2 linked regions of the Homo sapiens genome follow. The protein of the gene in region 1 interacts with the protein of each later gene in a pairwise test. Each region holds a gene or a part of one and is shown on either strand. Other genes may lie near its edges.

Evidence for each region.
Region 2: the proteins of ZFP64 (region 1) and BEGAIN interact in a two-hybrid assay, tested with the Homo sapiens proteins (one large-scale study listed by BioGRID and IntAct).

Annotation. Positions count from the first base shown.
Region 1 is NC_000020.11:52,185,280-52,188,779, forward strand, and holds part of ZFP64 (zinc finger protein 64), read right to left. Parts: intron 1,793-3,500; coding exon 1,553-1,792; intron 1-1,552. UniProt on the Homo sapiens protein: May be involved in the regulation of mesenchymal cell differentiation through transactivation of NOTCH1 target genes.
Region 2 is NC_000014.9:100,580,918-100,584,417, forward strand, and holds part of BEGAIN (brain-enriched guanylate kinase-associated protein), read right to left. Parts: intron 1-3,500. UniProt on the Homo sapiens protein: May sustain the structure of the postsynaptic density (PSD).

The DNA of each region.
Region 1 (3,500 bases):
TCCGAAAGTGCTGGGATTACAGGCATGAGCCACCGTGCCTGGCCTGTTCATGAAGTTTTATAGAATGAATACCTAGCTGTAGACTTATTGGATAAATGTCTTTATGTATATTTTAAAACTAAGAAATTTTAAATTTAAGATTTGAAAGCTATCACAAAATTGCCCTGGTTATAAGAATTTATATCCCCAGAAAATGAAATCAGTGTCCTTCCTCAAGCCTTGTTTTGATTTACATTTTTGTAATTACTAAGGTGACCAAACCTCCCCTGTAAATCATCCACTGACCTTTCCACTTTGCACTTTTTTTTTTTTTTTTTTGAGACGAAGTCTGGCTCTTGTCCCCAAGGCTGGAGTGCGATGGCACGATCTCGGCTCAATGCAACCTCTGCCTCCTGGGTTCAAGCGATTCTCCTGCCTTGGTCCCCCGAGTAGCTGGGATTACAGGCGCCTGCCACCACGCCCGGCTAATTTTTGTATTTTTAGTAGAGACAGGGTTTTACCATGTTGACCAGGCTGGTGTAGAACTCCTGACCTCAGGTGATCCACCCGCCTTAGCCTCCCAAAGTGCTGGGATTACAGGCATGAGCCACCGTGTCCAGGCTCCACTTTGCACTTTTTATCTCCTTTTACTGGTTTTAGCAGTTCTTTGTATAAGAGGGATTTAGGCCTTAATCATATATGCCACAAATTTTTCCCCAAGTTGATTGTCTTTAGATTTTGCATTTTACTTCGGAAAAAGTAAAACTTCATTTGCAATCACATATATGATTCTTTTTCTTGGAGGGGGTGGTCCACAACCTGCCTCCTTTGGTAGGCATATTAATATATTTTTTAGAATCAAATGCCTTTAGCTAAGGAATACATTCTCTGTTTCCCTACAGGATCCAGTACTATCCCATAAATGGGCTACTTCATAATTTTAAAGTTATCTTCCTGCCCCTTAAGACAGGGGTATAACTGTGTGTGTAGGTGTTTGTGGGTACATTTCCTCCAGAACTTTTATGGTTTTCTTATGCACATTTAAATTTTTGACCCATCTGTAATTTATTTTTGGTGGAATGAGTGTACACAACAGAGAACAGGGATGTTTTCCTGATCAGCAGCACAAGGGGGAGGAGATACCAATGCCAGTTTATAGATTTTTTTTTTTTAACAACAACATGCTTTTTGGCCCTTTACACAAGTAATGCAAACTCAAGGATTGTACCCATACTTCCACCACCCAAAACAACCACTTTTTTTTTTATTGCAACGTATTTTCTGCCAGCCTTTTTTTTTTCCTATAGTATATAGATTTTTGTTTCAGAAATCTCTTTTTTGTCTGTTTTTTTTGTAACGTGACAACATTTATAACTGCTAACAGTTAATGTTTTAACCTAGCAGCTCCCAAACCTGGCTGGGCAGCTGGCTTCCTGGTGGAGCTTGTTAAAAATAATGAATCAGCAACCCTAGGGGGTGGGCTCTGGGAATCTATATTTTTAACAAGTTCCATGGACGTGTTTGAGACACAGCCAGGCCAATTCTGGCCGACTCCCCCATGCTCCAGCTGTACCTGTGATTGTCTGGGTCTCCGAGGTGATGGTTCTGGTGGTGGTCTGAGTCTGGGTGGCAGGCACTGTTTCCTCCGATACAAACTGGACCGTGCTGGGGGCTGCTGCGGATGTGCCTGTCAGCTGGCAGCCACTTTGCTTGTGAGCTACAAAGGCATCCAGGTTGTTAAACTGCTGCTTGCAGATGCCGCAGATATGGATGTCGGGAGTCAGCTCCACCAGCACCGTTGTGCCACCTGGAACTCCATGGGACAAAGGGAAAGTAACGGATTAATTCCAAACAGCTTTGAATTGTAATGCAGACCAGATTCATGGTAGGAAGAAAAGGCATGGTGGCAGACATGGCTGGGTAGTGGCCCAGTATCCACTCCACCTTCCTCTTCCTGCGAACTGCATCCTAATTGTGCCCTAGCAGCAAGGTATCATATTTCCACACAGAGATTTCTTGCCTTAGTTAAACTTGGGGAAAATTGGACATAATGTAAATATCTTAGAAATCTTCAGAAAATTGGCCAGGCGCGGTGGCTCATGCCTGTAATCCTGGCACTTTGGGAGGCTGAGGCGGGCGGATCACCTGAGGTCAGGAGTTCGAGACCAGCCTGGCCAACATGGTGAAATCCCGTCTCTACTAAAAATACAAAAATTAGCTGGGCATGGTGGTGTGTGCCTATAATCCTAGCTACTCAGGAGGCTGAGGCAGGAGAATCACTTGAACCCAGCAGGCAGAGGTTGCAGTGAGCTGAGATCACACCATTGCACTCCAGCCTGGGGGACAAGAGTGAAACTCTGTCTCAAAAAAAAAATAATTTTTTTTTTCAGAAAATTATGATGCATAATTTTATCCAACCACATATGCACAAAGGTAGTCTTGTATTATTTAACTTGGGGAAAATTGGAAATAATGTATAGCAACCATCCATGTGATGGTTCACGCTGCATTGTTACCCATGGGGCACTAGTGGCATTGTTTGCAAGAAAGTTCTTTTATCAAAGATAAAAGGGATGTCCTGCACTTTGCAGAACCAGCAGCCACCTCCTATCCCAACTAAAAGGTAATTGTGAAAACTGATCCTCCCGCACATTTCCAAACATACTCACCCAAAACACATACTATGAGAACCAATAGTCTAAATAATCTTGGTCCTCTACATACTTGTGAACTTCTCCAGCACACAGCTGGAGGAGTTTCTGGGAAAAGTTTGGCATTTGTGATGAAAAGGGAGCAGATGTGGCTAGCAATGTGCCCCTTTTCTTCTGGCTTTGGATGCAAATGTGATGGTGGGGCTTCTGCAGCCATCTTGTAACTATGAGAAAAATGCCAAGATCCCTATGGGCTCTGCCCTTTACTTCACTGATTTCCCTGATTCAACACTGCAATCAATCAATTCCAGATTTCATTAGGCCAGTATAATTTGGGTTTCTGCTACTTGTAGCCAAAATTCATTCCTAACTGGCAGGGACATTATTTCTTTTTCTTTCTTTTTTTTTTTTTTTTTTTTTTTTGAGACAGAGTCTTGCTCTGTCACCCAGGTTGGAGTGCAGTGGTGCGATCTCGGCTCACTGCAAGCTCTGCCTCCCGGGTTCACGCCATTCTCCTGCCCCAGCCTCCCAAGTAGCTGGGACTACAGGCACCCGCCACTACGCTCGACTAATTTTTTGTATTTTTAGTAGAGATGAGGTCTCACCTGTTAGCCAGGATGGTCTCGATCTCCTGACCTCGTGATCTGCCCGCCTCAGCCTCCCAAATCCCTCCCTGGGATTACAGGAGTGAGCCACCGCACCCGGCCGACATTATTTCTTGATACTAATCATATCAAGAATTAATACTATATTAATACCTGGAAAGCACTTAGTGTAGTATTTGGCACTGTATTAGAAGCTACTATATAAATACTTGTTCAATAAAGACATAGCGGGTAGATCATGAGGTCAGGAGAGCGAGACCATCCT
Region 2 (3,500 bases), on another chromosome or scaffold:
TCTCAGGCTCTCGGGAGGCCACAGTGTCCTCCTCCCACCCTATGGTCCCCGACAGTCGCCCCTCTACACCCGGACAGCCCTTCCCCAGCAGCAGCCGTTCAGCCCCTGCCCTATTACCAGTGGGAAAGAGACTTGGAGGCTGGCAGATCCAAGTTCAAATCCCTTCTCCAACACTCCAACAGGCCTGCGGGCAAGCCACATCCCCTCCTCATCTGTCAGGTGGGCATGGGGCAGTACTCAGCCCATGGCAGTGCTGGGAAGTGGCATGAGCAAGGGACTTCAGGACTCATTAGCACTGGGGCTCTGATGTGGCCGTTTCACTAGCACGCATGGTTGCAGGAGTGTTCTGGGGGCTCTGGCCAACCAGTCCTCTGAGCTGCTTCCAGAGTTTCAGGCTGCATCAGGCAAGTTTCCGTTGTCATAACAACCTGCTGGCTCTCAGGCGCCTGGGCCTGAGGCTCTAAGGATGCTGCCGGCTACCGTGGGCTCACGGCCTGGACCTGCTCACCTACCAGCAGCCTGGACAACCTCTCCTGGAGGGGCTTCCGGCTCCTGGCACCGCAGCCCCTGCCTCTTGACTCATCTGATTCAGTCCTGCTTCCCAAGCCCATCCTGCGTGCCAAGCTCCGTGCTGTGCATGCGTCATCACCCCAAATCCCCACCCGCCTCTGTGCATCAGGACAGCCAAAGGCTCTATTTTCTGCTAAAAGAAGCAGGGTCTCAGAAAGGTGCAGTGACCCGTCGGAGGTCACATGGCTTGGGCATGTCAGGCCCAGGACAGAACCCCAAAGGTCAGGCACTCACACCCGTTTCCTCTCCAGATGCCCAAGCCCCTCTCCTGCTGCCTGGCACACACTGCCCCTGTGGTTGGAAAGCTGGCCCCTGCCAGCTCGGACAGAAGGGGCATGAGGCTGCCCACTGTCTGCTGGGATTGGAGCAGGAAGACCAGGCCACAGGATGTTGGGAGGACCCTGCCGAGTGGGCAGGCATGCCGGGCTTCTGCTGACAGTGCCAAACGTCACCTCGCTTCATTCTTACAGCAGGCCTGAAAGCTAGGAGCAGCTACCCCGCTTCACGGAGGAGGAAACTGGGCTCTGAGGGGTCTCGGGTAAACCCCCATGGTGCGGGCATGCGCCAGGGGCCGCAGCATAGGCCAGCAGAGGTGTGGTCACCTTCACCAACCTTCCCCTCGTCCCAGCACAGAAGTTTATTTTTTTTCCTTTCTTTCTTTTTTCTCTTTTGTTTTTGAGACAGGTCTCGCTCTGCTGCCAGGCTAGAGTGCAGTGGCGCGATCTCGGCTCACTGCAACCTCTGACTCCCCGGTTTAAGCGATTCTCCTGCCTCAGCCTCCCAAGTAGCTGGGATTACAGGCACGCACCACCATGCCCAGCTAATTTTTGTATTTTTAGTAGAGATGGGGTTTCTCCATGTTGGCCGGGATGGTCTTGATCTCCTGACCTCGTGATCGGCCCACCTCGGCCTCCCAAAGTGCTGGGATTACAGGCGTGAGCCACCGCGCCCAGTCAGAAGTGTCTATTATTATTCCCCTTTTGCAGTTGAGGACACTGAGGCTCTGGGAATCCGCACACTTGTGCTCCTAATCACCTGCCCCGCTGTCCCTGGATTTTCCACGCTGGCCTCAGAATCTCCAAGGGCAGCCATGGTCTTGATGTCTCCCAGTCCCCAGCACCCAACACAGGTGCCCCAGTTCTCTTCCTCAGATAGGACATGTACACAGCTGTCCAGGTCTTCCAGGGAGATCCCTGGGCAAGGACGCCCCTGTAGGAACCCCGGCTGGCCGCTGACCTTTCGAAGAGGTCTCACTGCTTCTTCCTTATTTCCTGAGTGGGTCTTCCAGGGCAAAGCGGGCCTGGAAAGGCCAAATAGCTGTTAGTTTGGGTTGGCTTTTCTCCCACCAAAGTCAAGGTGGGGTTAAGTCTCCCTGTCTGATCAGCCCCCTCCTGACCCTGCGCCTGCGTAGTATATGTCTCTGAAGCAGAGGGACATGGGGGTCTGTGAGCAAAACACTGGCATCTGGGAAATCAAGGCATGAGTGACCTGAAGCTTCACCCATTCAACCAACCGTCCTTCACCATCCACCCCTGTGACCGCTCACCCATTTACAGGTGCCATCCACGCACCAACACATCCTTCTGTCTCTGTGTCCCTCACCCGCTGATGGGCACTCATCTGTTCACTGGTCCTCTCACTCCCGTCTCCATCTGTCCGCCTGCCCATCCCTCCATGTCTGTCCATTCCTCTGTTACTTGTGTCTCGTATCCATGCATCCATTGCTTTGTATCCATTTGTGCACTGAGCTGCCTTCTCAGGCCTCTATCCACACATCCGTCAATATACACTCATCACCTATCCATGCACTCACTCTTCCAGTGTCCATTCATTCCTCTGTCCATCATTCATGGACATGTATTCAAGTATTCATCCACCCATCCCAACATCCAGGCACTACCTGTATCCATTTATGTATCCATTCCTTCATCCATCCATCCAAAGATCCTTCCATCCATTCATCTACCAATCTTGCCTTGTGTATCAGAAGTCTCCCTCCCTCCACCCATGTATCATCCATTGATATTTTGTTCTATCAATCCAGTCCTGTATCCATATCAACTTTTCCATCTGTCCACCCACCCATCCCTATCTTGCTACTTACATCCATCAACCTCTCCTCCCGTCCATCTATCCCTCTTTCTCTCTTTCTTTCTTTCTTTTCTTTTTTTCTTTCTTTCTCTCTCTCTCTTTCGTTTTTCTTCCTTTTTTTTTTTTTTTTTGATGGAGTCTCACTCTGTTGCCCAGGGGCTGGAGTGTAGTGGCACGATCTCGGCTCACTGCAACCTCACCTCTGCCTCCTGGGTTCAAGCAATTCTCCTGTCTCAGCCTCCCAAATGGCTGGAACTACAGGTGCACACCACCACACCCACCTAATTTTTTTTGTATTTTTATAGAGACGGGGTTTCACCATATTGGTCAGGCTGGTCTTGAACTCCTGACCTCAGGTGGTCCACTCACCTTGGCCTCCCAAAGTGCTGGGATTACAGGCGTGAGCCGCTGCGCCCAGCCTATCCCTCTAGGTTTCTACCCATCCATCCGCTGCTCTATCCTGCTAGTGCTTCCCTTCCATACAGTATCATCCACCCATGCATCCCCTTCAGCATGCCTGCGTTGCTTCTCCACCTCATGCACCTCTTAATCCCAGCATGCACCCACTGTGGGATGACCAGGCTTCCATGTCTGGCTTCCCCAGGCAAAGCCCAGGCCTGACCCATCTCCATCCCTGACTTGGGCTCAGGGCTTGCTGATTGAACCAATGACTGCAATTCCCCTGCTTGGCTCAGAGCTGGGCCCTGGCTGATCCCCACCCCAGGCAGACCACAGAGGCTGCTGTACTGTCCTCCAGACTCAAGGCCTGCTGAGGCAAGGGCCACTTTTGAGTTCCCTTCCTGGCTAGAGGGGAGAGAAGAGCCCCAGCAGCTCCTGAC